Linked DNA regions of Homo sapiens: regions 1, 2 and 3 are each linked to region 4. Evidence: fine-mapped expression QTL. A gene starts in region 4. Each other region holds a variant in brackets. All regions are shown on one strand. Distances are between the middles of the regions.

Region 1 (7,422 bases), 54 kb before region 4:
CTGGCTCTAGATCCCGCTGCTCAGCCGATCCACCTTCCCCACCTCCCTCCCCCCAGCCTCAGTTTCCTCCTCTGAGAAATGGGAAAATGATTATACTTATTTCACCGGCAATGCTATGATAGTTAAATAATTCTAAACCATAAAGCGTTGTGAGACTTCCTTCTTGTACTCTTGAAGTGTATTATTTTGAACATTGAACATTCAGTCAATGTTTCTTGAGCTCTATGCCCCGGGAGCTATTTTAAGCCCTGGATGAAGTCTGTCCAACTCGGGCCGGGGATAGTGATTGAAATAGAAAAGCTCAGTAAGTGAAGGGCTCCTCTGTGTCTCCCACCCCACTTGACGAGCCAGATGGAGTGAGTGGCTTTTAACTGTAGAGTGGACCCCTCTAGCAAGCTGCTGTTTGCTTTTCTGGTGTGGAAGGTAGGACTTTGGGATGAGCCCACAGAGGACCAGGGAGCCCAGGCCATCCACTACCTCTTTATCCCGACCTGAGGAACGTGCACTTAGCGCAAATTCCCTTCCTTCCATGCCCAGTGCTCGCTGGTGACAGGGTTCAGGGCAGAGGGGGTGAGGCAGATCTGAAGGGAATGATTCTAGACTAGCACTTTGAGTTCTGCTTAACATCAGGGAGTTGGGGCCAGGATAAGACTGGAGCTGAGGGAATGGGCTGAAGCCGGAATCAGTGGCCAAGCCTCTGTGACCAGTTCTGATTCCTGAGTATAATGAGTGAATGCCTAGTGTTTCCACACCTGGCTTCCATCGCTGCTGGGAGGGGCTTCACTCAGAGAAATAACTATGAGAATGTGTACATGGTGGGCTCTCCTGCAGGCTCTCAGGGGACCCAGGGATACTGGCTGAGGACAGGGGCCATTTCATCCCAGTTAGCTTTTTACTGAGTGGAGCAAAAACTCGTTCCTTCCATGAAGCCTCTGGCTTCAGTCTCAGCCCTTACACCCCAGGACATGGTCCATGAAGCACCTAGTTAGGACTTCAGAAGGATGAGGTGATGGTTCACGTGGAAGATGTTGCTTTTCAGTTCCTTCTGTTTCGTTCCCTCAGTGGGCTGCAGACTCTCTGAGTGGGCTATTGTGATGAACTGGAAAGAACCTTGGAGTGGAAATCAGGAGGCCTGAGCTCACGTTTCAGCTCCAGCACTCAGTGGTTTCAGGCCTCTCCTTGAGCCTCAGTGTTTTAATCTGGCAAAGGGGAGCATAATAGCTTCCCACCCAGGTGGGGTGATGATACAGGGGATAAATGTGAGAAAGGGCCAGACATGTGTTCTGCCTTTTCTTCTGTCTGTATCTACCCTAGAAAAATGAAAACACATCCTCACACAAAAACCTGTACGTGGGCCAGGTGTGGTGGCTCACGCCTGTAATCCCAGCACTTTGGAAGGCTGAGGTGGGTGGATCACCTGAGGTCAGGAGTTTGAGGCCAGGCTGGCCAACATCGTGAAACCCCGTCTCTACTAGAAATACAAAAAATTAGCCAGGTGTGGTGGCTCACACCTGTAATCCCAGCTACTCAGGAGGCTCAGGCAGGAGAATCGCTTGAACCTGGGAGGCGGAGGTTGCAGTGAGCCGAGATCACACCATTGCACTCTAGCCTAGGCAACAAGAGTGAAACTTCGTCTCAAAAAAAAAATAAAATAAAAAAACATGTACACGAATGTTCATAGCAGCATTATTCACAATAACCTAAAAGTGGAAACAAGCTAAATGTCCATCAACTGAAGAACGGATAAACAAAATGTGGCTTGTCCACAGGATGGAATACTATTCAGCCTTAAAAAGGAATGAAGTATGGATACATGCCACAGTTCAGATGAACCTTGAAAACATTATGGTAAGTGAAAGAAGCCAGTCACAAAGGACCATGTATCCTATGTATCATATGATTCCATTTATATGAAATGTCCTGAATAGGCAAATCCATGGAGGCAGAAAGTAAATTAGTGGTTGCTAGGGATGGGTGGTGGAGGGAAGGGTTGGGAAGTGACTACTGATGGGTGCAAAGTTTTTTTGGAGGAAAGGTGATGAAAATGTTCTAAAATTAAATGATGGTGATGGTTGTACAATTCCATAAGTAACTCAAACCACTGAATTGTGCACCTTAAATGGGTGAACTTTATATTATGTAAATTGTATCTCAATAAAGCTGTTAAAAGTTTTTAATTGGGTGTCCTGAATTTAGTCTGGCAGCTTCACTTCTGCCCCTCCTTCCTTCTTTTCTCTAGTCTTGACAGCCTTCTTCTCCCTTTTGGAACATATAGAAGATAGTGGGGGTATTTGTCTTTCTTGAGGGACAAGGACACCTCTTGATGGGTGGGGAGGAATAAGGGAGCGATTAGGGAGTCAGATACCAGGCTGCCTCACCTCCAACAGATATCATCATCTCCCCTGCCTCAATTTCCCCTTCTGCCTAGTGAGGGGAGGGGAAACAGAGGATTGCTTGCCTTTGAACCCTTGGAGGTGCTGTCGGAGGAGTCCAGGAAGGTGGGGTGCATTTGCTGGCTGGGATGGGGTGGGCTGCACAGGACAGCATGAGCGCTTATGAGTCACATGGTGGATCTCCCAGACAGTGGTGGGGTGGCAGGCGGATTGCCCAGAGGCACCTCTTTGGCCGCAGACAGGGGCAGAGAAGCCAAGAAATCTGTGACTGGTGCCCCGTGGGCTAGGGTTAGGGGTAGGGGCTGGGCCACAGGCTGTCAGATGAAGAGGAGCTGGTGCTGGGAGAAGGCTGAGTCTTTAATGGAGCTGCAGCATGGCTGGCCAACTGCTGGCCTTGTGTCAGGTGGGGGGGTGGAGGGGCTTCAGGGAAGGGCTGGGTTGGGGTTGAAGACCTGGGAGCCTCTCCTTAGGACCCAGTGGCAGTGGGGGAGGGCTTGGAGCTGGTGAAGAGCTAGATACTTCCAGGTCTGGGGACATCCAGAGCTCTGTGCCCAGCCAGCTGTCATTAACTGCTTAGCTCCTTGGGGTCTGTGCTCAGCTTCGTTTCCCTCTGATTCATCTCTTCCTTGCCACTGCTTCCCTCCCTCAGACTGTAAGCATGCTCAGAGCTCCCCATCTAAAACCAACCTCTTTTTGACCCCTCTCTCCTGCAGCTCACCATCCATCTTTTGTTCTCATCCCTGCCAAGTTCTTTCAAACTAGACTCATCTGCACCCACGGCCTCTACCTTGCTTACCTGCTGCAGCGTCAACCTTTGAGAGGCACTCCTACTCCCCCATCCCCTGAAGCTTCTTTGAGGTCTCCACACCCTTCTTTTCATGAAATCCACCACATCCCCCTCAGACCTATCATAGCTGCCCTTCAGCCCTCAGCCCCGAACCACTCAGCACCCCTGCTTCCTGAAATGTCTGGTAGCCTGCTCCTCCCCTTTGGCTGCCCTCCCTCTTGATTACTGTGGGCACAGCCCAGCTTCTCCACAGCCTATTCTCTGCATCCTCTCCTGGGTGGCCTCATCTCTCCCAGGGCCTTGACTGTCACCTCCATTGCGATGACCCAGCTCCAGCTCCGATCACCCTTTGGCCATTTCCAGAAGGCTGCTGGACCCCTCCCATGGGCACAGCCAGCCCAACCTGTCCAGGAGTGGACTTCGTATCCCATCCCCCATCCCCCCAACCAGCCTGTCCGTCAAATCTCCCTCATCCTCCTCAGCATTTCCCTGGGAACTCAGCTTGAAATAGAGTCATCTTTGCCTCCTCAGTCCCCCAGCCACTATGCCCGGAAGTCCTCCCACGAGACATCTTTCCTGTCCATCTTCATCTCTGTTCCCACTGCTTCCTCTTAGGTTTAACTTTT[C/T]GTCATCTTTGACCATGATTGCTTCCTGGCAGTTCTGCCTGCTCTCACCCTCTCCTCCTCCCCTCTGCACAGCGTCTTGGATGATCTTCCTATAGCATCTTTCAGGTCCTTCAGAAAATCCTCAAAAATCCTCAAAAGCTTCCCATTATCAACAGAGTAGACTGTATATTTGTGTAGTGATCTACAATCTAAAAAGCACTTTCACATAAAGTCAAAGAGGTAATGTTATTCTTCTTCTTTTATGGATAAGAGAACTGAGGCTCAGGGAGGTATGGGGAGTGGTCAGGCTTCACCCAGTGCTACAGAGCAGATCTGGGACTGGGGCTGAGGCCTTCTGTGGGTGAGGCCTTTCAGTGGGTGCATCGCCCACTACAGTCCTCTCAGTCTGCCCTGGGGACCTCAGCAATGTAGCCCCTAGTTGTCACCCTGCTGCCCAGCCTGGATCCAGTGCCCCTGCTTAGCCCCTGGTCTTGCCCAGAACACACTGGGCAGTTTCCCATGCCCCTTGCTCAGGCTGCTCATTCACTTTCTGCCCACAAAGTCCTCCTCCAGGCCACTAGCCCATCTCTGCAAGCACAAAGCATCCGGTGCCTCCTTCAAGGCCCAGGCTATGTGTTGCTTTCTCCAGAATCCTTCCCAGCCCCTGCCAGCAAGGGAGTATGCTCCTCCCTTGTCTGGGACCCCTGGAACACACCACCAGGAGCTCCAGCTGATTCTGAGCAGGGATTGACACAGCCGGGCCTCCAGTCCCCATGCTTGCAGCTCTTGGGGGGTGTCTTCATAATAGGCCCTTCACAAATGCCAAAGAAACAAATGGTGGATGGGGCTGCCCAAGATTCTCCTCCTTGAGGAGGCCCTTTCAGACCAATTGGCCCAGCAGTTCCAATCACCTCCCGAGCGTCACATACACCTTCATGGGTAAAATGCATCACACGGCTGGGTGCAGTGGCTCACACCTGTAATCCCAGCACTTTGGGAGGCCGAGGCGGGCAGATCACGAGGTTAGCAGTTTGAGACCAGCCTGACCAACATGGTGAAAACCCTTCTTTCCTAAAAATGCAAAAATTAGCTGGACATGGTGGCAGGCGCCTGTAATCCCAGCTACTTGGGAGGCTGAGGCAGGAGAATCACTTGAACTCAGGAGGCAGAGGTTGCAGTGAGCTGAGATCGCGTCACTGCACTCCACCTTGGGTGGCAGAGTGAGACTCTGTCTCAAACAAACAAAACAAAACAATCAAACAAACAAACAAAAAGCCACACATCAAACCTGGCTCAGTCCTCGGACGGTCCAGGTTCTAGTGTTAGCTCTGCCATGTGGCTTCCCTTGAACCTCTCTCATCTGTGACCAGGGACTAATAACACCTGCTTTGCTATCTCCCTGGTGTATAGTGAGCATTCAATGGGATACTGTCTGTGAGAATTTCTGTATTTTTATTATACCAAGAAGAATGAGCTTGAAGGGAATTCTTTTATAAACACTAAACTTTTGTGCACCCGTGAGGGGCTTTTATAATTATATACAGGTGTGTCCACCTAACACTGCCTCCCTCTGCTGTAAGGTGGCGAGGGTGTGAAAGCCCAGAACCCTCACTTCATCAAGTTCTAAGATTAAAGGGCTGATGCTTGAGGGATTCTCAAGGGATTCCCTGAAGGGTAGGTGGGACCAGGGCTCAAAATGATGCTCACCTCCAGGACCCTCCTGGGTACCAAGCCCTGCCCCTCACTGCTGGATGGGTATGGCTAAGTTCATTCCTTCTCTGGGTCTCAGTTTCCTTATCTGGAGAGGTTGGATTGAAGCTCAGATGTTCACTTGTTTTTTTTTTAAGAGCCACAATGTTCAAAGAAAGTCTTATACCAGGAACCCATACATGAAATAACCAGAGCTGCTTCATCTAAAACAGGGTGGCTCCCTGAGCCCCCAAGACCTGACCCTCCTTCCCAGCCTTGGAGGTCCCGAGGCTCCTCTGTGGAGCCCTAAGGGGTCCTCAGTGTATCAAGACCCAGGAAACATGTTCTGATTCTCACTGGAGGGATTGTGTATTGGGGCCCTTCATGCCTTCCTTACCTGAGTGTGAACTCTCTCTGGAGCCTGCAGGAGAGACTATGGCTTTTTTATGCCTCTACCCACGATGCTCAGCTCACTGTCTGATACACAAAAGGGGCTCAAGAAATGTTTACCCAACAGAATAAATGAATGAATGATGATGAGATTAGGAAAGAAATGCGAAGGACAACCTTGCTTTAGGAGGTAGGAACAGTTCCATGCTGTCTGGAGGAACGGGAACTAGATGGCCTTGACCTACCCCATGCCTCCCCACCGCCTCACAAACACACAGGGAAACACGCAGCCTGTGTTCTTCCCGTGGGCCCAGTATCTGGCACAGAGAAGCCCTGACTGGGAAGAAGTGAGCTGGAAGGAGGGAGGGAGAAGGAGGCAGAGACCCAGGGTGCAAATCTGAGCAGAAGGAGGGTGGTAGAAAAGGAGAGGAAGGGAACTTCCAGGAAGTCACTGCAGGGGCAGACAGGCATGGTTATGGGCCCCTTGGGGGAAGGGCTAAGGGCTTTCCTGACACCCAGAAATCTTTTTGTCCCAAATGCCTGCTCTTATCCAACAGTTCTCCTCCTTGTGCACACACTGGCCAGAGCAATGCTGAAAAAACAAGACAGGGACCAAAATATCCTTCTGCCTGCTGGAAAGGACAGAGAAAAATTCTGAAACCCCCTCCAATCCCCAAGCTCTCCCCACAGGGCTGAGCCAAGCCTTAACAGCCAGTACTCCTTGCCTTCCTTCCTGGGCTCTGGAGGGGTGTGCTGGGATACTTCAGCCTCCTTGGGCAGCCCTTTCTGACCTGAGGAGTATAGCCCAATTTGGAGAGTTCCAGGGAGAAAAGAGCAGGGCTGCTCAGCAAGGTTCCCCTCACCCAGGAGTGCTTCCCCTTCAGCCCTCCCTCTTCCCCACCCACCTCTGCCCACAGTGGGGAGGCTGCAGGTGCAAGGGGCCAGTGGAGAAACCCAGGACAGGGGCTTAGGAAGAAAAGAAGTAGGATCAAGCGGTAAAAGGACCACAGGCGATCTTTACATTTACTGTGGCATTATCTCACCCCCTGAGTCACATGGAAAATAGAAGCTTTGCATTGGGCATCTTGGAGGGCACCTAAACTTGGTACCTGTGGGATTTGGTACCAACATTAGCATCCCTGGCTGTGCAGGGCAGATTTCATAATTTTGCATTCTCTTTCCCTTTCCACCCCCACGCTTCACTGGCCTGGTGCTGCCTACTTGCCTTTTTGATAAAATATCAGTGCTGGACGCTTTCCAAAAGCCAGCTCATTATGTTCTCATAACCATCCTACACCGAGGGGTATTCCTACACTGCTGTTACAGGTGGGGAAACCAAGGCTCAGCTTTTGAAGGCAGGTGAAGCTTGGAGGGTTGCATGGCTGCAGTGTGTGAGGGGACCCTGGTGTGGGGAGGGTCATCTTGTCTAAGGGTCCTGGACACACTGTGAAAGCCAGAGAGTTTTGACTCAGGATACATTCCAGACACCTTGGCTCCATCTGTTCTGCCTACAGCCTCCCTCATTGTCCTTTCCTCGTTATAGATCTGTGACCTTGCC
Region 2 (7,246 bases), 40 kb after region 4:
TAAGGAGATAAAAGAAATACATATGATTTTAACCTGGGGGAGGAAAGACAGCAGTGTTCTAGAAAGCAAACCTGGGCTCTGGGTCTCATCTAGACTGGCATCTAAATTGCAGTTTTAGGCCAGGCGTGGTGGCTCACGCCTGTAATCCCAGCACTTTGGGAAGCTGAGGTGGGCAGATCACTTGAGGTCAGGAGTTCGAGACCAGCCTGGCCAACATAGTGAAACCCCATCTCTACTAAAAATACCAAAAAATTTAGCTGGGTGTGGTGACATGCGCCTTTAATCCCAGCTACTTGGGAGGCTGAGGGACGAGAATCACTTGAACCCAGGAGACGGAGGCTGCAGTGAGCCAAGATTGCACCACTGCACTCCAGCCTGGGTGACAGAGTGACTCTGTCTCAATAATTAATTAATCAGCTAATTAATTGCAGCTTTGCCACATACTGCTTGTGTAACCCAAGGGAAACAGAAAATGACACGTCCTTTGCAGGGGTACCGTGAGGATTAAACGACACAGGTTAATTCACTTACTATTCATTCAGTAACTATTTATTGGATGTCTAATACATGCTTAGTATGGTCTCTGGTCATGCAACGAATGTTAATTCCCCTGTCTCTTTGAAGGAAGGACTAATGGCTGGACACTAATATTAAAAGAGTCAGTGGTATTCAATAGAAGGGCTTGGGAGAGTAGTGCTCTTGTCATGAAATAGCACTTCAGTCTGGAAATCCTCTAAGTGATTTCTGCACCTGAGGGTAAAAGAAGAAAAAAAGTCAGAAATTACATGGTTCAATATTTACTGAGCCTCAAACATGTGTCATGATTGGAGAGGACCACTTAAGACATTGTGCTTGACCTTAGGAGCTCGGAACCTAGGGGAGGAGTCTAACATCCACACAGATCACGGTGGCAGCATATGTCAGTGTGGTGGCCCAGTGGTCTAGTGTGGCAGGGAGGCAGTCACTGATGTCCAGGGCACCCGAGGATGTTTCCTGCAAGAGTAACCCAGGAGCTGACTGTCTCAGGGTGACTGGCAGTGGCCCGGTGGGGAAAGGAGGGATGGCACAGGCAGAAGTGAAGCACAGGTGGAGATGCGCTGGAGGAAGGCATGGCTTGTTTGGAGACTCCCGATGGTCCCCTGGGATACAGGTCACCACACTGGATATGGGACACCAAGGGTGCTTTCCTAGCAGCAACCTGGGGCAGAGGAGAGGGAGGATGTTGTACTGGACCATGCACGTGGACCATGCACTGGGCATAAGGGCATGACAGAGGCTGGGGCAGTCACCAAAGGTTGACTCTGAAGGTACAGTCCACAGGTTGGGGCAGTGGCCGGGAGCCCTAACCTCAGTCGGTATTAACTAAAAGGCCACCAGGCAAGTGGGGATTGAGGTGACAGTTGACATAAAGGATAGGGGAGCAGTCATTGCTCTGGAGGACTTGTCCATGGGGCCATGATCACCGCCATCAGACTAAGGGCCTACACGAGGCACCTGTGCCAGGGGAGAAATGGGGCCAAGGCAGGGCCTCTTGGGGACATTTAGAAGAGGGGACCAAGGCAGGACCATGTCCTATAAGCTGGGTTAACAAAGGCAGCCAGGGAAGAATTGCACCCAGATTTACCCCTGAGGACTGTGGATCTCAAAAGTGCATGGGCAAATCTTCCTTTGACTTGGGATCTCATCTCAAATGTGGCCTCTACTGAGCCTTCTGTGACCACACTGTGCACAGCAGTCCCCTCACCGCCATCCTTCACTCTCTAGCCATATCTTGTTTCCTTTCAGCACTCATTATTGCCTGGAAAGGTCTTATGTGCACGTTTGTTCACTGTCTGCCTCCCCCAACAGAATGTTAGCCTCAGGAAAGTAAAGCCCCGGCTCTTGTCCCTGCTGTGTCCAGCTGGACACCAGGCCTGCATGGACACTTGGTGTGTGCTGAGAAACTCAGCAGCAGCAGGAAGACTCCAGCCACATGGGGCTTCAAGGCCAAGGTGGAGTCAAAGGAGACAATCTGGCTGGGAACAATGGCTTACACCTGTAATCCCAACAGTTTGGGAGGCCAAGGCAGGAGGATCACTTGAGCCCAGGAGTTGGAGACCAGCCTGTGTAACATGACAAAACCCTGCCTCTACATAAAATACAAAATTTAGCAGGGCATGGTGGTGTGTACCTGTAGTCCCAGCTACCTGGGAGGCTGAGGTGGGAGGATCAGCTGAGCCCAGGAGGTCAAGGCTGCAGTGAGCTGTGATCGTGCCTCTGCACTCCAGCCTGGGTGACAGAGAGAGACCTTGTCTCAAGCAAACAACAGCAACCCCGTCTCTACTAAAAATACAAAAATTAGCCTGGTGTGGTGGCAGGTGCCTGTAGTCCCAGCTCCTCGGGAGGCTGAAGCAGGAGAATCGCTTGAGCCCAGGAGGTGGAGGTTGTAGTAAGCCGAGATCACGCCACTGCACTCCAACCTGGGCAACAGAGCGAGACTCTGTCTCAAAAAAAAAGAAAAAAACCAAAACCCAAAAAACAAAAACCAAACAAACAAACAAAAAACAAAACAAAACAAAAACAAACAAAAAGAGATAATCTGAACACAAATAGCTTTTCGAGAACTCTCATTGTTTCTGTCCTAGACAGGATTCATTCAGAAAATGGCGTGGGCCTGAGCTAGCCGGGTGACAGAGGGCTGTGGGAGTCCCACATGAGGAGCTGGCATGATGGTTGAGGTTAATGCTGACATCAGGGGTACCCAGCAACTGAACTGGGGTGGGGACGGCAGGAGAAGTGACCGGAGAAGACACGAGGGCCTGATAAAGTGTCTCAACCCTGTGCTGATGGGTGGGGACTTTCTCCTTTGGGCAGGGGAAGCCTGTCACTTCCCTTGCTTAGTTTTTAAGCAGGGGAACTGACAGGCTTAGATCTCTATTTTAGAAAGATTAAACTGGTTGCGATGTGGTGGCTGACTGGAAGAGGGGGTGGGCAGGAAGCAGGGAGGCCAGATAGAAGGTGGGTCCAGATATGAGATGATGCTGGTTCTAGCTGAGGGAGTGGCCATGAGTTTGTAGAGGAGCAGGGTGGATGTGAAGACCAGAGAGAGGCTGTGGCTAATGCTTTCCTGAGGGTAACAGTAGTGCAGGTGTAAGACTGCGTACTCAGGGAGGACTTTGGTTATTTGGATGCTTGTAGGAGGGCGCATTCTGCTAAAAGGAGACTACAGTTTTTGCTAAATCCTTGACAAACCCAGCTCACAGAAGTTGAAGAAAGGGCTGAGAAGGGAAGAGGGAGGGAGGGAATGAGCACTGATCATAGGGCAGGCGTGCACGACTTCACTGACTCCTCACATTTCTTCCATCCTACAGCAGAGGACTGAGGCTCTGCTTCTTTGCCTGAAGTCACACAGCTGGAGTGCAGCACGCCAGAAGTCACCCCTGCACCTGGACTCCACTCCTAACAGCTCGTTGGGATGTGGTTGGTGTATCCCTCAATTGAGACCTCAGGGGGCGGAGCACGTGCTCAAGCAGCTTGTGCTCTGGACTGAGGAGAGCAGGTTTCAAAATGCCCATGGACAGGCAGGCTGCCGGAGTGACGGGGACACTGTTCCTGCGCTCTGGTGCTGGGTTGACTCACATGGGGGGCCAAGCTGCCTCCCCCTCATCTCACCTGTCCCAGTCCCCAGCTGCCTTCCCAAGTCCCAACCAGAAACCAGCTTGGAGTGAATAACAGGCTGGACCATTAGGCTTTGTGCAGATTTTCTTCAAACAGAATGACCAAGGTGCAGCCCAAAGCAGCCAGGAATGTTGGGATGACTTTATTTAACCAGGACACCGTGTGCATGCTCTCTGGCCCATTTCAGGCCTTGGTTCTGGACTCAGAATTGGTTAGAATCAGTCTTCAGTTTAAATGCCTATAAAGTGAGAATAATCATTGTTCCTTCTTCATCTGGTGAACGGGGGCAGTAGGTGAGATAGGGCCTGCAAAGGGCCCAAACAGGATTTATCTCGAAGACCCCTGAGTACCAGGGGTCTGAATTCTTAGTGTAATGCTGAGTGGCTGCTCGCAGAGCGCTTAAATCAGGGAAAAGTTCTTCTCTGCTGCCATCTAGTGGCATTTTGGGAATAACACGTGCGTGAAGGTCCGCAGAAGCTCCTGTTTCCAGGCTTCTGAGCCAATAACCAAAGAACGTGTTGCACTTGGGGCCGCGCTCTGGCTGCCATCACCTGTGTACTGGAAACTGCCCACTGGCATATGGACTCATGGGGCAAGACCTGCCACAGGGCCTGGCACATCCTGCACGGACCACCTTCCCACCTGGCTCTGACCTGCGGATGTTTTGGAGTCAACAGTGTGCTTAGAGAGCCTCTTAAGTCACCACATCTTTGGGAAGAGGGGCACAAACCAAAGATTTATTTTGCAAGTGAAAGGGGCAGCCCAGGAGACCCAGAAAAAAGGAAGGCAAGGCTGAGAGCAGAAAGCCTGGATAAAGGAAGACCACAGAAAGGCCTGCAGGAGCCAGATTGCGGCCCCCAGGGAAAACCCAGGAGGCAGGCTGTAGAGTGATCCTGGGCCCAGCCTCAAAGCTGGGACTGGAGGGGCTTTAGCGACTCAATTCCAGGTGCAGCATTTGCAGGAGTTGCTGAACACCAGGCCTGTCGGGCAGCTTTGCTGGAACAGCCGCCCCGCTGCACAGCTGTAGAAGCTGGACCGTTCCCGAGGATTGGGATAGAGCCCATCAGCTTTGCCCTGGCAGAACGTGTCTTGTCCAGGGCTGGGGCCATGCTCAGGTTCAGAGGGCTGACCTGGTTTTGGAACTTCAAGCTCTGGGGTGCCTGAAGGCAAGTATGGAAGACCTGGGAAGACAGTGAAGATTCAACCAAGGCTCCCCCGAAGAGATCCCAAACCCACAGGCAGAGCACACAGGCAGCAACCATTGGCTGGCAGCAGCCCAGCACCACATGCCCTACAGGCTGAGTACAGCCAGATACCCCAGGCAGAGAACAGCCAGACAACAGCCATACCTACAGCTGAAGCACAGTGCCACAGGCAACACCTGGCCTCACATGTGACAGGCAGTTAAGGCTTTACCCATCTGCAAGCACAACCATATACTGCTGAGGGCAGGTGGGGGTGCCACGCTGCAGGCTAAGGGGAGGCTTTCTCCCAGGTAAGAGAGGAACAAGGTGCTGCTCCCAGTCTGGGGGCCCTCTGGAGGGAAGCCACGGTTACAACAACCCTGGGCAGGCATTGCTACAAC[C/G]AGGAAGAGAAAGACCGCAAAAAGGAAAATTGTTTTGACAGTTTCCTTAGCTCCTGCGGGTACATGAAGCTTGGGAAATTACAGTATTGGGGCAAAGTCATTTCCTCAGAAGGACCCGGGACCTACAGTTCATTGGATGCATGGAGCTGTGTTTGTACCCCACCTCCAAATTCCACCACTGGCCCTGGGCCCCTTACTTACTCAGTTCCTGCCGTAGCGTCTGGATGAGGGGGTATCGGCCCTGGTTGCAGGAGAAGCCGGCAAAGTCATCTAAGTCCAGTGCCCAGACCATGGCCCCGCCCAGTCCCTTCTGCTTCAGATAGCTGACCTGTGCAGGGAGGGGATGCAGTGGAGGAGCCCGGGGAAGCCTGACCCGGCCACCCCAGAGCCTGGCTACCTCTTCTGGACAGGGCCCTTTTTGCTCCAGCAGCCTCAGGCCTGTGAGTGGCTGTAGATTCTGGAGACAGCCTTGGGCTGGGAGCCTGGATGCTGAGTCCTCATGCTGCTTGGACATCAGTCATTTTGCAGTCTCCTTGTCTTAACGTAAGCATGACCTGGGGTGGGGTGGGTGCAGTCGGGAGGAATAGTGTCAGTTGTGTGCACCTCCCTAAGTGGGAACCCTTCACCGCTTGGTCATGTGTGGGCTGAGCTGCTTTATTTAAGGGTATTGTATGCTGGTCAAGGTCAAGGTCAAGGTAAGTCCAGTTACCATAGGGAACAACTCAGATTTCCAAAAGATCTCAATCAAGGCTTGCTTCTCTGTCTTCATGTCTTTGTCTTCCCTGAGAGCCATCTTCCCTCCACCAGATTCCTGAGGCTTCCTGAGGGTATGACTGTGTGTTCCCTCAGAGTGGGATTCTCTGTCCTCTAACCCTGCCAGGGGGCCATGGTGCTTGATCCCTTGCTGGCCCCAGCCTCCCTTTCAGCTAGCTCCCTTCCTCTACCTGCCCTGCTTGGGGGTCCAGCTATGTGGGCCTACACTTTGTTTTCAGAGTCCAGCCTTTACTTTCTCTGCACCCGCGTCTTTGCTTGTGCAGTTGCCCGCTCCCTCACCCCTAAGAATGGCCACCTTCTATGCTTTAGGACTTATCTGAAATACCCTTCCACCGTGACCCCTTCTCCCATCTCCCCAGCCAGGATCGTGCCCCCCTGCAATTGTCCACCTCTAGAAGCTGCCGCTGTCAGCCACACATGATAGTTGATGTGGGATGTACAGATAAACTAGTGAAGCATCCGTCTTCAGGAGCTAACAGTTTCACAGGGGAAAATGGCATGAAACCAGGTAAATGCACCAATATTGGGCAGGAGAAGGGGGTCCTATAAGTAAAGCAAAAGGTCTGTAATTTGGACATGCACCAGATATTGCCAATGGGCTGAAGAAAGCTATATGTCTCACCATGTGTATTTCTCCTCTTCATATGTCTGTAGAATTTGTATGGTATTTAATAAAATAGAAATACTTTCCAGAGTGCTACTAAATGTAGAGCAATTTTTTGTCATTTTGTCTTTTCTGAGTCAATAGGTAGTAAAGGTACAAAATACTATCACGTGGAGATTTATGAAATGTTGGGACATTTAAAGGAGACTCACCCTTGAGGTCCTGAACTGTCCTCATTCCATGTCATTGACAGGACTTGTTCACTAGGACCACCCCTCTGCCAGCAGAGCTGGGCCTCACCTTGGTTTTGAAGCTCTCCACATCATCAAAGCCCACCCACTGGTTGTCCCGGAAGATGTAGGGCACCTTCTGATCCTGGATTCTCTGTTTGGTGGCCCCCTTCCAGGAGCAGACCTGTGGGAGCAGAAGGCAGCACTGGGGAGGAGGAGGGAGGCTCTTGCAGGCACCTTCCCTTCCTCACCAGGAGGAGACTAGAGATTGGAAAATTCCTGTCTGAGGAAGCCTGGAGAATCAGGAGGTTCTTTGCAGTGACCTAGAATTCTGGACTCAGCTTGAGGCACCTGGGCTTAAGGATAAATTCAAGATGGCATGGATGAGATGGAATT
Region 3 (7,422 bases), 24 kb after region 4:
GAGTCACAGCGTATCCTCAGACTTCAGCAGAGCAAAAGTCAGGGATCAAATGGTTTTTCTTAGGAAGGCCAAGTTTCTGGGAAATAGTCAAGGCTTATTTTGGGGACCAGAACCAGTCAGGGCGACCCTGTTGGTTTTTTTTTCCTGCCATGGTATGTGAAGTGCTTAGTCATGTTGGAAACAGGGCAGAGTGTCAGCAATGCTCAACACACATTTGTTAAACTAAACTGAACTGAAGTTGACAGTCCCTCATAGGCCCATGAAAACCTGGTCTCTCTGGAGAAGCCACATGAAGATAATAGAAAAGTGATGTACAAGGGTCCCCTTAGCCAGCCTGAAATCAGTTTCCTGGTTAGCAGACAGGGTGGAATGTGGCGCTGTGCACCATTTCTGCCTGGATGTGGGACAGCTGTGTTCAGGCGGCCTCTCCTGTAAGGGAGCAGTGGCTCCCAGGGTCTGTGCTTTCTGGCACACGACACCCATGGGCAGGGGACTGGGAGTGAAAGCAGGGTAAGGAACCACTCTAGAAGTCGGGGCCAGCAGTCTTCACCCCTCTGAAGGTGCCTGGAGCAGCCATGTGTGTATTTATTTTCTGGACCCTGGTTTTGGCCCATCTTGTTAAAGAAGTGATGGCCACTCAAGCCGATCTGGGTGTCCCCCATCCCAGGGATTGACCGGCTTGCTTCTGCCTTCACAGTGTACTCCCCATTCTGGTGCCCACTCCTCACTTCAGTGATTCCTCTTTCTATTCCAGACTCATCTTCTGGAACCTTCCCTCTTTCACAGGCTCACATCTAATTGCTCTATCCTCTGACTGTGTTCTTACAACCACTGGGTCTGTGAGCTTGGGGAACACCTGTGTCTATGGTGGTGTTTTAGTGCCCATGTGTCTCATCTTACCTCTCAGACTGGAAGCTCCCTGAAGGCAGGACTATCTCTTTTCCATCTGCCACACACTTTAGGATCTCCCTGAAGGTAGGGGCTCTCGTCTCCTTTTCTTTTCAGATCTGGTGCCTCCTGAGGGCAGGGTTTGTGTCTCTTTCTGCTGGACTTCCCCATAGCCATGCTTGGGTAAGGGCCTGACTCTCTCAACAGATCTCTCACACCCAAGGACCCAGGTCTCTAACACATCTCTCTGGATGGTGATTGTGATTTGAAACCACTGTTTTGAGGGATGCTTTGCACTTATCCATAGGGCATGCAAAAGGTGTTCTTAGTGATGTCTTGTTGACAATCTTAAACTCCAATCCACTGGATGATCCTCCTTCTCCTCTCCCTTCAGTATCCAGAAGTAAGTGGAGGTTAGTGAAACACACACACACACACACACACACACACACTCCTTCTCCATACATTCTAAATGTCATCTACAAATGTACACCTCTAACCTCTCTAAATAGCCCTGTTCACCATAAACAACCATCCTCTCCTTGGAGTTGTTTTTGATGCCAGGAGAAAAGAAACACTGGCAATGTACAAAGCCAGAGCCCAGGTGACCCCAACCCCACGTGGTGCTGTGGTAGAATCAGAAAAAGTCCCCAACCCCCATTCAGCTCTGCCACTTGCTGACCTTTTTAGCATGACTCAGCCCCCTTGAGCCTCAGCTCCTCACAGGATTGTGGTAAGAATTCAGTGAGGTATGCATGTGAGGGTCTGGCACGGAGCAGATGCTCTGAGGAGGCCGGTTCTCCTTCTCCAACCCCACCTTCATTTCTGGCTCTCCCATGAGATTTCCACCCTCTGCAGTTGAGATGATCCTGTGGCTCCCCCACTAAACACTGAATTTGGAAAACGCATACAGCAGAGCTACATGGATCCCTTTTGCCAGAATGGAGATGGGTCAGATAGCAGTTATAACTCCCTTTAAGAGCCTTCAACATTAAAACAGGCAACTAGCCTGGGCGTGGTGGCTCATGCCTATAATCCCAGCATTTTGGGAGGCCAAGGCAGGCAGATCACCTGAGGTCAGGAGTTCGAGACCAGCCTAGCCAACATGGTGAAACCCCGTCTCTACTAAAAAGACTCAGGTGTGGTGGCATGCACCTGTAATCCCAGCTATTTGGGAGACTGAGGCAGAAGAACCCCTTGAACCCAGGAGGCAGAGGTTGCAGTGAGCTGAGATCTTGCCATTGCACTCCAGCCTGGGTGAGAGAGCAAGACCCTGTTTCAAAGAAAACAGGCAAATAAAGCTATCTTCAGACTCTCCATCCTTAGGAGTACTTAGGGGACCAGGCCTCATCCTTAGGCGACCGGGCCCTTTGGCCTGCGATGAGATGAGAAGGTCCTTCCTGAAGCCTGGAGATGGATGCGATTTGAGAACAGCTTATGTGGTAAGGAGGCTGTGGTAGAGAGAATAATGGCTCCCCAAAGATGTCCATGTCTTAGACCCCAGAGCCTGGAAACATGTAACCACACATGGCAAAAGAGACTTTGAAGATGTATCTAAGTTAAGAGTCTTAGTTGGGGAGGTTATTTTGGATTATCTGGGTGGGCCCAATATAATCACAGAGGTCCTTATGAGCGGATGATGGAGGGTCAGACACAGAAAAGGGGATGTGACAAGGGCAGCAGAGGTAGGAGTGATGTGCTCTGAAGATGAAGGAAGGAGCCACGAGCCAAGGGATGCGGGCAGCTTCTAGAAGGTTAGAAAGGCAGGGAAATAGATTCTGCTCTGGAGACTCCAGAAGGAACACAGCCCTGTGGACATCTTGATTTTAGCTTTATCAAACTTATTTTAGGCTTGTAACCTCAAAAAACTGTAAGACATTAAATATGTGCTGTCTTAAGCCATTATAATTTGTGGTAATTAGTTATAGCGGCCACAGAAAACTAATACAGAGATTGTTTTCTCCATTGACAATGAGGAAGCAGAGAGCAGGTGACCTTTCCAAGTCACTTGGCTGCTAAATACAGAGCCTGTACTGGAGCCCAGTCTCTAGGCTTCCTTTGACCAGGCATGGCCCAAGGCAAACCTGAGTGCAGGGAGTGTGAGGACATGCCTGAAAGTGACCTTTCTCCTGCTAGGCAAGGGCCTGGAGGAGGTGAAACCTGCGTGGTCTTCAATGCCCCTGACATTTGAAAGAAAGTGCCAGCTCCTCAATAAAAACATGCTCGAGGCAGACCTACCCAGGTTGGCACTGGATGAAGACCTCCCTGGTGGGGAGAAAGAAGCAGCTGGATTGCATGATCCCTACCCTGTCCCTCGGATTCACCAAGATGCACATTTCCCTTGAGAGGTTGTAGCCAAGGTGGTCTCAGGGGCACTGGTCACCCCTTAACACTCTGGCCCAGGAGGTGGCACAGTCCTCCCCCTGAAAAGCAGAGCCTGAGCCAAGGCATTCAGATAAGACTCAGGGGAGGCTTGAGGGTGAGGCAGGGGAAGTGCACGCTTTGAGGTGGGTCCTGGACAGTCAGACGTTCAAGCTATGCTCGACTCCTGATTCCATACGGAGGGCGCCATCTGTTTAGGGACCCCTGTTGAAAGATGCACCCCTGCTCCCAAGTCGGGGCCCTCTTCCATCTCCCTAAGGCTAGTCTTCTGAGCTCTGGTTTCCAATAAAGATACAACCTTTCCCCAGGGATTGGAGCTGGGCACCTCCTCTTTGTGGAGACAGAGCTCTCTATCTACAGACATGACCTGACTCATCACTCAGGCCACAGCTGAACCGAGAGAATATAACAGTCCCCCAACATCCACATCACTTCCACACTTCCACTGTTTGGGTAAAGCATTACATTACTCTCTGGAGCCCAGAGTCTTTTGGCTGAAAGACTAATTCACTCCATTATTCATCCTGAGGGGCAAGGGAGACTTGCTATGGGTGCCAAGTGCCCAACACATGCTATTCCAGTCACAACCCGCCCTGCCGAATGCTGGAATGGAGGTGTTGGCCTTATCCCTCTCAGTAGGTGAGCAAACGGAAGCTGAGAGAGGATCAGTGCTTTGCCCAAAGTCGTGCACATTTTATGTGGTTGAGCAAGACTTGAACTGAATTCAGCTCTTTCAACACTGAGTGCG[A/G]GGGTTGTTTAAGTAAGGCTGCCCTCATGGGATAAAAGGAGAGTGGGAGGAAAAAGAGAGAGAGCCAATATTGTAAGAAAATTCATGAAACACAGTGGGACAATAGGACAGAACAGTTGAAACTGGGACTGTCCTAGATAGCTGGTATAGATCTTGCCAAGAAAGGAAGTCAGAAGCTAACTATAGACTGAGGACCACGGGTGTAAGAACACGGTCAGTCCCTGGATTCTGCCACTTCTCCTTGTTGGTAATTTTCCATTCTCCCCACTGCTCCCCTGCAATGACTAGCACATAAACCCTGAAACTGAAAGGGACAGCTAGGAAGCAGATAGCCAGTCTTTGTCCAGTTCTGCAGCTATTTTAGGGAGAGAAAGAAACTCAACAATATGGTGTTTATGAGGAAAGTTTTGAGAAAACGTAAAAATAAGCGGAAAGGAGAGTGAATCTTTGGTGGCTTAGAAGGATAAACTAAAGAGCTCACAGGAGTCTGCCAGGGACTAAGGGCAGCATGTGTTCATTCTTTCAGGAAAGAGTTACTGAGCCCCTATTAGGTGCCAAGTCCTGGGCTAGGGTGGGGAGAGTGAGGAGTGGAACCTCCTTTAGTTAGGACAGTCAGGGAGGCTTCTCCGAGGAGGTGATCTTAAGCAGAAATCTGAGGGATGAGAGGGAGTCAGCTACCTCAAGAAGAGAGAAAATGATCCAGGCAGAGAACACCATATGCAAAGTCCTGGAGGTGAGAAAGAGCTTAGTGTGTTGGAAAAAAAAAAAGAGAAAAGCACAAGCAAGCTGACCAGCTGGCTAGAGTAGTTTGGGGATGTGGGGAGAGACAAGAGGCCCCGGGGAGAGAGGCAGGTCTGTGTCCTGGGGCCTGTGGAAACCACAGAGGGGTTTTGTCCTCTGTGCAATGGGACACCACTGGATGTTTAAGCAGGTAGTCCAGGATAGAGTTTATGTTTTGGAAAGTCACTCTAGTGGCTCTGTAGGGAATAGATTTGTGGTATGGCAAGAGTGGAAGAGGCATGAACATAAGCAGCTGTTAAAGAGGTCCAGGCAAGAGATGCGGTGGCCTGCCCTGGGCTGGGGACGTGGAGGTGGAAAGAAGGGTGGACTATGGACATTCCTTGGAGGGAACATCCGCACACTTACAGATGAGTTGGATGTAAAAGGATGAGGGAATAGAGGGACCAGGAACCACCCAGGGGGTCCTACCTTTAGCAAGGTGGACAAGGTTGTGCTAATTGTTTAATGTGAGGAATTCATGGGGTGGAGATAAGTTTTAGAGTAGGGGGTCTGTCTCAGCCATATTAAAGAACTGTTTATGCCTTATCTGGGTAGAGAGAGCAAGCGGGCTGGTGGATACATGCATCTGGAGCTTGGAGGAGAGGTCTAGGCTGCGGATACAGTCATTGGTGTCAAGATGCTATTTAAAGCCATGGGAACGGATGAGTTCACGTAGAGCAAGAAGGGCAGAAGCCCATGCCTGAGCCCTGAGGCATCCTGACATTTAGAGATCAGGTGGTGGAAGAGACCCAGAAGGTACAACGGCAACTATATCATTCAGCCCGACATCCACAGGCCCTGCAGGTTCAGCCCCAGTCTGCCAGGTGCTAGGGCCAGCAGAGGAGGGGGACAGGGCCCTTGCCCTCAATGGGCCCAGGGTCTATGTAGAAGGCAGTTGTTGAGCCAATACTTACAATATAATATGGTAAAGATGGGCCCAGGAGAAGGAACTAGAAGAAATGACTGTGGTCCCAGGTCCCAGAAGCTAGGGCTATGACTGAGTCTGGGAGGGGCCATGGGCCTCAGAAAGATGGAGAGAAAAGTTGCAGAGGGCCAGGCGCGGTGGCTCATGCCTGTAATCCTGGCACTTTGGGAGGCCAAGGCAGGCAAATCACGACATCAAGAGATCAAGACCATCCTGGCCAACATGGTGAAACCCCGTCTCTATTAAAAATACAAAAATTAGCTGGGTATGGTGGTCGGTGCCTGTAATCCCAGCTACTTGGGAGGCTGAGGCAGGAGAATCGCTTGAACCTGGGAGGCAGAGATTGCAGTGAGCCGAGATTTCGCCACTGCACTGCAGCCTGGGCGACAGAGCAAGATTCTGTCGAAAAATAAAAAAGAAAAGAGGCAGAGGCTGGGAACTATTCCAGGTCTGGCATCCTTCCCTGAGACCTCCAAGTCCCCTTGAAGCTTGTTGCCCATCCTTCCCTTCCGCTCGCCGCCAGCCTCCCACCCCACCTCCTAGTCCGCCTCCAGTTTCTCCACACTGCCCGATCTTCTTCCAGCAGAGCCCCTACCGCTCATGAGTAACAACATGGAGCCCTGCTCATTCCTCATTCCCATTCCTACCCCAGGCCTCCAGGTCTCCACCCCTTCCCTGACAGGCCAGCCTTCTCAGGAGATGTGTTTTCTACAACTAGGATTAACTTGACAGGAAAATGACCACAGCCTGAAGCCTTGCCCTCCATCAGGGAGGGATGCTGTCTCCAAAACAGTTGCTTCATTTCCTGCTGTTGAGAAATCATGCCTGTTGACCAGCTTACATTTCACATTACTAAGAAAGGAGAGAAATCTGCCCTGCTGAACTTCTTAGACAGAAACTTGGTTAACCCCCTGGGTTTGTGGGTGAGGGTCCTGCACGAACCCCCTTCCCTCCTGTCAGCTGCAAGTGCAGCGGCTGGGCTGCTGGTTTACATTGCTGCCTGGGTCATGGTGCCCACTCAGTTCGCTCTCTCCCATGGCTATGTGCAGTCCACAAACCTGGACCGTTTGGCCTCAGCCTCTCTCCATCCTTATCCCCTCCTGCCTCCCGGGTCTTCGCGTGCCTGGTCCAGTCTGGACACACCCTGGCCCTCAATCTGAGGTCATGGCTCTGAGTCTCATGGCTGACTGCCTGAGACTGCAGTGAGGTCTGAACCCTCATTCAAAACTCGATCTCAGTTCTGTTGTTTCTTTACGTTAGGGTCCCCACAGATCATCCAACCAGAGGAAATTTCCTCTGAACATATTTAATTTGTTCTTTTTTAATTGTTTATGACTCATTTAATCTTGAATTATAATACTTTGTGGGCATGCCTTATCCCCTCTCTTCTAGACTCTATAAACTCCAGAAGCTCAGGCCTTGAATCTGGAGTCAAATCTCATTTATCTTCATCCACAGTCTCAGCCAAGAGCTTGGACATGCTTGTGGAATGGATGAGTTTTGATTAGAATTGTAGAAGGAGAATTTGAGCTGATTGATATGGGAAATGCAACCTAGGGATTGATTTGTTGGTTCTGTACAAAAAAGTACCACTAACAGCTAGGAGCAGAGTCTATAAAGGGGATAGAGAGCAGTTCATTTATTCACTCGTTCATTCAACAAACACATATTAAGCATCTACTATTTGCCAGAAGTAGTA
Region 4 (7,422 bases):
ATGGGCCCCAGCTGACTCTCTGTCTCCCCCTGCTGGGGAGCAGGTGCTGCACCTGTCAGGCTGCACTTCTAGGAAGGGGAGGCCACTGCCGTCTTCCTGCTCTAATATCCCCAGCTCTCCACAAGCCCAGGACTTTCAGAGAAGCCTTTGTGAAACCCTGTTTGTCCATTCCTCTGTCTCCAGGCCCTATTGAAAGGTTTAGGATCTTTCTCTTCCCAAGTGAAGCCAGGGCGGGTATCCCCCCTTCTTCCTCTGTCACCCTCCCAAAATCTGTTAGTCTCAGAGCCGGGAAGTCCTTCTTGAAGTCCTATTTCAGCTGCCTGCTATGCTAAGGAATGACATTCTGACCCTCATCTGGTCAGGGGCAACCACTGAAGCCCCTGGGCATTCTAAGGGAAGCTGCAGTGGCCACCATCCCTGTCCCCTGGGGTGGGTGCTGGGTCCATGACTGAGGCTCCTCAGCAGCAAACAGGTGGCAGCAGTTGGTTGGTGGCATGCAGGGCGGAGGAGGACAAGACAGTGAGAAGGAACACGGTGTCTCTGAGGATTAGCTGAGTGGGCACTTGGCTCTGGGAGCTCAGGCATGGAATGCTCTAGGGACAGCTGCAGGGGGTCAAGAATGCTTGGCAGCTCCAGGTGGCCAAGGAGAGACAGCTGAGCAGCCAAGGATCCTGGACAGGGCCCCCACTCTGCCCTGTGATAAGCCTGGCTGTTCCCCACTTGTTCACAGCCTCCTCTCCCTCTTCTCTCCAGGAAATCCCCTTCTCTCCTGCCAGAGGAATTTGAATGGAGAAGTGGGTGCTGAGTCTGGCTGGGTCCATCAATGCTGGGCCTCAGGGGCCTCTCAGAGTCTGAGCTCCCTGGTTCCCTGGGGAAGGCCCAGCACCGTCCCAACCAAGAAGCCTTCCTGGCACCTCCAGGACTAGGGTCGACACAGCCATAATGCAGCTGCCTGGTGGGGCCACATCTCACCTAGAGCCAAAGGCTGGGAATTAGGGTTGGGAGGCTTGGGTTTTGGGTGCCACCAGAGAAGATGCTCTGCAGTGCAGTGGGACATGAGTGGTCCTGTGTAGGCATCAGACTCTGGGACTGCCAATAAAAGGCTGGGTGACCTCAAGGGATGCCCTGGGCTCCTTGGGATCTCCTTGGGCCTTGATAATCTATGAATCTAAGCTCCCTAACCCCATGGTTCCCATGTCTCTCAGGCCTCAGAGCTGAGCATTTCCTTTCGAATCCAGACTTGACCCCTCCTGTGGATCCCCTCTCCTTCTGGAGGCCTTGTCTAGAGCTACCAGAAATCATCCATCCCCTAGTGGAGGAGCAAGAAGGAAGGTGGAGAAGGCTTCAGGCCACCTGCCTGCCTGTGTCTCTCCTCACCCTGGGGGACTGTGCTGTCCCCAGAGACCTCAGATCAGACCAAATGACTCACTGTCATTAACAGACTGAAACCCGATCAGCTCCGGGAGGGGAGCGAGGGGAGGATTGAGGCTAATGCACCTTGCAAATAGAAATATTAGCAATGGGGATGGCAGCTGGCCTGCGGGGCCCCAGTGAGGTATGCCCTCTGCAATGGAGAAGTCTTCATGGGCCTTTTGCAGACCTTCTTTTTCTTTCCACTAGGGCCATGGTGGAACAAGGGGCAAGCAGCGCCTTCTCTCTGTTTCAAGACCTTTGAGAGAATCTGGAACCCAGGCCACAGGAAATGGGCAGAAAATGAGCATTTATGGCCACTGGAGAGATTGAGATTAGATGGGAGATAGAACAGATGGACTCTTAGCATTGAGCAGGTGACCCAGGGAACTTGACCTTTTGTTTCTGAGCCCCTTTCTCAAGGCGTGGGGGCTGGACCACTCAGGGAAATGGCTTCTTAGACCTCCAGAGGCCCCTTACTGCTGAGGAACCTGGAACTTTCTTAAGGCAAGATGGTGATAGCGTGTGGCTTGTGCATGTGAGCGTGGGACGGGGGAAATGACTGCCTGGTTCCCTCTACCTGCTGGCCTCAGTTTCTCCATTAGATAAGGTGTTTGGGAAGGGCTGGGTAGCTGAAGGCCAGGATGGGCTTTACCAATGTTCTCTCGGATGTGGATGGGCTGGTCCAGCATGGCCGGCGGGCCAGCCCCTGCAGAACTCACTGCAGACACGCGCAGGAGGAACTTGTCTCCCAGAGCCAGGTTCCGCACAGTCTGCTGGGTCACCATCATGGGCCGGGCACTCACAGGCACCCACTCCGAGGCTGAGGGGATGGAGAGAGTGTGAGGTCTTTGCAATGTGGCCACAGGCGCCCCTCTCCATGGGGCTTCTTTTCCTGCTGGTGATCTGGGGAAATCAGCCTCCCTCTCTGGGCCTCATTTTCCCCTTGTTTGCCTTCCCTGACTTCTTGTCAAATGGCATCAAAGACACCTGATGTTAGAGCCCTGAAATTGTGGCTAGAGATGAGGTTGTTGAAGCCCAGAGAGGGTTGGACACATTTGCAAAGTCACACAGCAAGGTAGGGGCAGAGGCAGAGGCCAGGCTGGACTTGGGCCATGGAGGGGGACAGTGGCAGCAGGGATGTGGCCCCCACACCCCCACCCCATTCCCGCTTTCTCCTCACTGTCTCTTACGCTAACATTCCCCTCTCCAGCTCCTCCCTTTCCACTTCCTACAGTTCGGGGTCCTCTGAGACTTAGCACTTCCTTCCCTTCTCACCAAAGGAGAACCCAGTGTCCCCTTACCCTTCCCTTACTCAGAAGCTCCTTGGAGCTGAGGACAAGGGAGCCCCTCAACCCACCCACCTACCCTTTCTTGCTCTCCTGCTGGTGGAGCAAGAAAGGGCAGGTGGGTGGGTTGAGGAGCCTACTGCTCGCATCCCCTCCTTCTGTATCTCTCCCAGACTGACCAACCACAGGGCCTGTGCACTTGTCCCTGCAGCCCTCCATGACAACCTCCCCTGGGTGTATGCAAGACTTAGCCCAGCACTCACCTCCCTCTCTGCAGAGCTCCAGCACATAGCCCTGGAGGCCCAGCCTCCCCAGCCTCTCTGGGGGCTCCCAGCTCACAGTCACAGAGCTGCTGCTCACATCATCCAGGGTCAGCAGCAGTGGGGCACTGGGGACATCTGGGGAGATGAAGAGGTTCATGGCCAAGAGCTCCCCTCCACCCCTGACATGCCTGCCTCCCTCCTCCCCCTGCCCCACCTTCAGTCACCTTCACTTGGGGGTGCAGGCTTAGTGGCTGTGGAGGCTGTAGGGGCCTGTGGGGCAGGGGCCTGCGGCTTGGGCACCTGCTCTTCTCTGGTGGACTCTGATACTGCCACTTCTCCGGGAGGCTCTGCTGTGGGCACCTTGGCAGATTCAGATGCGGTCTCCTCTGGACTGCAGGCAGGGCCCTCGGAGGTGTTTTTTTCCATCATTGCTGGACTGGCTGGGGGGCCAGGGTGGAGTGTGCAGGGGTCAGCCGTTGGGGGGCCTGGGCCTCTAGGGTGCCTGGGACACCTAGGTCCAGGCTTATATAGTCAGGGGCTGCCCCACCCCCAGCAAACGATTCCCAGCTGTGGGGTCAGGTCAAGCAGGAGGACTGGAGGGTGGAGAGGCGCCCAGGCCAGGAATAGCTCTGGGGGAGGAACCACAAGGGCCCCTTGAGGAGTCACTTCCTCATCCATCTCCCCGACTGGCCTTCAACAGCCAGGGTGCTGGTGCCCAGCTGGGGGAGGGCGCAGATGGGTGAGATGGGACATCGAGCAGGCCGCGTGCCAGGTGTCAGGGCAATAGGAGGAAGAACTTCTATCTGGAGAATGAGCCCAGCTCAGGCTCTGTGTGTCTGGCGTCTATGGGGCCACTTGTTCCCAGAGCTTCTCAGACTGGGTGCTGGGGCCCTGACAGTTTGGGACAATCGTCCTTGTGAGCACTCCCAGCTTTGCCTCTGGGGTCCACATTCCCTGGGCTCCCACAGTTCCCAGGGACTCTCGCCTGTGCTGTATGAGGCTGAGGGCCCTAGAGAGGGAGGGAATTGAGATGCTGAGGGTGGAGCTGCTCAGAGGATGGTCCTCCAGCATTGGAACCCCAGGAAGGGGCACTAAGTCTCCTGGCTCCTGTCTCAGTTGGGCGGCTGGTAAGGAGCTCGTCTCCCCTGATGCCTGCTGTGGGCCTCAGTTTTCCACCTGTTACAGAGAACCCCTCGCCCTTCGGGATGGGTTGCAGTTGTAGGCAGATCTGGAAGATGCCCTAGTGGAGGAGAGCACTCTGAAGCTTCTAGACTCTTCCAAGCAGGCTGTGGGCATGGGCTTTCTCAGTGTGCCAAAGGAGGCAGATATGGCCAGATTTCTAGTCATTGATTCATTTGTTCGATAAAATGTTAAGACTGGGAATCACTGGAAAGCCAGAAAATGCCATGTGTCAGGAAGGAGGGAGAACATTAAGAACTTTTATTGCTGGTATTGGAGCAGTCACTCTGGAAAATGTGAGAGTTTTACTAGTGCCTAGTAAAATGGATGAGGTGCCTACTCCGTGACCCAGCCGTGCCGCTCATATAACACCCACACATGCCCCAGGAGACATGGAGAAGAAGGTTCATGGCAATGTTATTTGTAATTGTTGAAATGTGGGGGAAAACAGCTGTCCCTCAACAGTGGGATGGATAAATAACTGTGGAGTGTTTATGCAACTGTAAAGCAAAATATGGGGTCAAATGAGCAACTTCAGCTACTCACAGACCCAGTGATGAGCAGAAGAGCAAGGCACACAGAAATGTTGCGTCTCATCTGTCTCATCTACATTAAATCCAAATGCAGTCAACACCAGGCTCCCTTCTTCAAGGTACATCCGTAGGCGGTAAGGCCAGAAAGGAAGATGAGGCCAGTACAAAAGTTAGGATGGCGATTGCCTCTAGGTGGAGGAACAGGGATATCTGTGATCGTGAGGGCTGCAGGGGTGCTAATGAGGTTTCCTTTCCTGACCTGGGTGGTGGTTACACAGGTTCTTACTACATAGTTATTCTTCAAATTAAACAAATACATTTATGCACTCTTTAGCACGTAAGATGTGCTCACAATTTAAAAATAAGTAAAAGTGATTTATTCAGGGCCCTCAGCAGCATGCATGCTCTTCCCTTTCCTGAGGACTGGGGACACCAGGGTGTGGCTGCCTCTCAACCCTGCTGTCTCTGCTGGGGAGTGGCAGTGCAGGGCCTGGGAGCCTCTGGATCTGGCCCTCCCTGGATGCCCTCGCCCTCTGCTAGGTGACTCCACGTCTTGCCAGGCAGGGAGTGGGTCCTGGAGACTGGATCTCCATCCTTGGCCTCTGACTCTGCAGCTATAAGTGAATGTGACTAACCCCACAGGACACTGAGTCAGCCCTGGAGAGCCTGTCCCCGGCTGGGGGAAGGGTGGCCCCAGGGGAGGGCAGTTGGCTGCCCACAAGGGCTTGCAGCCCTGGGGTTTCAAAGATGCCTGTGTGGTGGGGTGGGCAGTGGCAGGGATTAGGGAATACTTGGCCCCACCAGCCAGAGGTGAAATGCCGGGTACCCCCTCCCCACACCCCACTCCACGCCTTGCCGAGTCCTTGTTTTCTTCGCCTTCAGCAGGGCTGTGACCTTGGGATCAGTAGCATCTGCCCAGCTCCAGCTGGTTCAGATTTCAGATATTTCCTCCTTCCCTCCACTTCAAACCGGCGTCACAAACCATCAGGCCAATTTGTGATTATCCTAAGTCACAGATAATCCAAACATCAGAGAATCCACAAATCAATTCTCTTTAGTTCTGGGGTGAGTATCTGGAGCCTTTTTGGATAAAGGCATTCCTGGGGCCCTGGGAATTCAACAGAAGCCTGATGAGAGCGTCTCCACCTCATAAAGGCTGAAAATCTGTCTATTCTTCTGAGTCACCCCATCACATCCTCCCGACCTCCTATCTCAGGCCAGCTTGAGCAGAGGTACTTTGATCTCTGAATGGGTGGAGGGATGAGTGTTAGGGGAGGGGTGAACAGAACAAAGGGCTAAGCCCAGCACTAGGACTATTGACAGATTTCAGCCCAGCCACGGAATGGGTTGCTTCCAAGGTAATCGGCTGCCCCTCACTGGGAGGCTGGAGGGCCATCTCTCAAGCACTCTGCAGGGACTCCAGTCCCGAGAGGCAGGAAGGGTGCATGAGATGACATCTGCATTTCCTGCTGGCCCTGAGGGTCCAGGGTTCAGGGCTTTCTAACCTGGTCCTGTGATGAGCTCCCACCACCTTCCTGTGGATCAGAAGAGAGGGAGTGTTGGGATGAAAAGCCTTCTTTCCCAGGGCCTGCTAGCCTTCAGGAAACAGAAAACGTTTCTTTCAACAGGGAATTTAATTTAGAAATCTGGATGGCAATGACTTTAATATTTGGAAGGCCATCAGCCATGCTTGGGTTAAGTCCAAGGCAGGTGAATCTGAGGACGCTGGCCTCCCACTGGGGCTCTCTGCGGCTAGGCAGAGGACATGGCGGCCTCATCTCTGCAAGCTCAGGGGTCCCAAGGCTCAGAGGAAGGAACCCAGAAGAGATGGGGGAGGTGAGTCCAGTGGGTCTAGTGGGCGCTCAAAGATAGACCAAAGCAAAGCGCCAACACACTGTTAAGCTCTTGTACTTTATTGAGCAGCTGTGGAATTAGGAAGGGGAAGTAGGATAGGGGACACGATTACGTTCCTAAGTGAAGGTTTCAAGCTGGGCTTTGCAGGGGGTATAATTAGTATGGTCACTGTGTCTTGTAGGATGTTTGGCTCCTTGGTGATAGAGCTTGCCAAAATGGTGTCCTTTGATAAGGAGGGCTGGGGGGCAGGGAGTTGAAGAAATTCCCTTGCCAGGCTTGGGGATCTGTAAACATTTCCATTAATCAACAAGTGTGTACTAATCCCGAGTCTTACATTGCGATGCCTCACTATCCCCACAGCCCCATCCCTACCTCTCTGCCCACCAGGGCTGAGCTCAAATCTGTGTGTTGTGGACCTCTGCATAGGCCCCAAGGGAGGGAGACTGAGGCTCAGCCTGGGACTCAGCAGGGCAGGTGATCAGGCTCCCGGCCAGCTGGAGCCAGAGGGGGACGGGGCATCCTTGGCCCCCGTGCTGTGTGCAGAACAGAGGGCTACGTTGCAGCGAGTGCATCCTTGATGGCATTGGTGAGAGGGAAGCGCAGATCCTGGCCACAGAAGGAGCCCTGGAAGTCATCCAGGTCCAGGGCCCATACCATGGCGCCCGCCAGCTGCCTGTCCTTCAGGTACTGCACCTGGCAGGGGAGGCCCAGAGGAGCAGGGCTGGGTTCCCTGACCCAGAGTGTGTACAGGGCACATGTGCTCTGTGAGCCCAGCCCAGACCTCAGTGCAAGGGACAGGAATCTGGCTGCTGGGAGCGGGGCCTCCTTCTTTCTCTTTGTCCTGAGGTGTGGCCTTGGGGAAACCTACCTTGCTTTTGACGCTTTCCTGGTCGT

Alleles and levels. Alleles are on the strand shown, and positions count from the first base shown. SD is a standard deviation of normalised expression in the study named. Not every link is listed here.
For the expression in fibroblasts of the gene that starts at base 3,462 in region 4, allele A in region 3 goes with a lower level than allele G (moderate effect, 0.47 SD a copy in GTEx).

What was found.
Region 1: its variant is fine-mapped to the expression of MYBPH in whole blood (TOPMed, PIP above 0.99).
Region 2: its variant is fine-mapped to the expression of MYBPH in whole blood (TOPMed, PIP above 0.99).
Region 3: its variant is fine-mapped to the expression of MYBPH in fibroblasts (GTEx, PIP above 0.99). The same link has a PIP of 0.9 or more in whole blood.

Annotation. Positions count from the first base shown.
Region 1 is chr1:203,118,042-203,125,463 of GRCh38, forward strand. No RefSeq gene overlaps it. Among named protein-coding and RNA genes, the nearest start is that of ADORA1, 6.0 kb to the right of the region's middle. The variant C/T (reference allele first, on the strand shown) is at 3,807.
Region 2 is chr1:203,212,296-203,219,541 of GRCh38, forward strand. It overlaps CHIT1 (chitinase 1), which reads right to left. Exons shown (of 11, transcript NM_003465.3): 9 at 6,921-7,034; 10 at 5,444-5,570; 11 at 3,784-4,838. The coding sequence ends at 4,594. It overlaps LOC124904485 (a long non-coding RNA gene), which reads right to left and starts at 1,192. Exons shown (of 2, transcript XR_007066797.1): 1 at 858-1,192; 2 at 528-750. RefSeq lists enhancers at 3,037-3,793, 3,794-4,549, 4,550-5,305. The variant C/G (reference allele first, on the strand shown) is at 5,243.
Region 3 is chr1:203,196,245-203,203,666 of GRCh38, forward strand. No RefSeq gene overlaps it. Among named protein-coding and RNA genes, the nearest start is that of CHI3L1, 13 kb to the left of the region's middle. The variant A/G (reference allele first, on the strand shown) is at 4,019.
Region 4 is chr1:203,172,365-203,179,786 of GRCh38, forward strand. It overlaps MYBPH (myosin binding protein H), which reads right to left and starts at 3,462. Exons shown (of 11, transcript NM_004997.3): 1 at 3,187-3,462; 2 at 2,963-3,097; 3 at 2,066-2,233. The coding sequence starts at 3,391. It overlaps CHI3L1 (chitinase 3 like 1), which reads right to left. Exons shown (of 10, transcript NM_001276.4): 9 at 7,397-7,422; 10 at 6,567-7,221. The coding sequence ends at 7,081. RefSeq lists enhancers at 1,597-2,126, 5,044-6,243.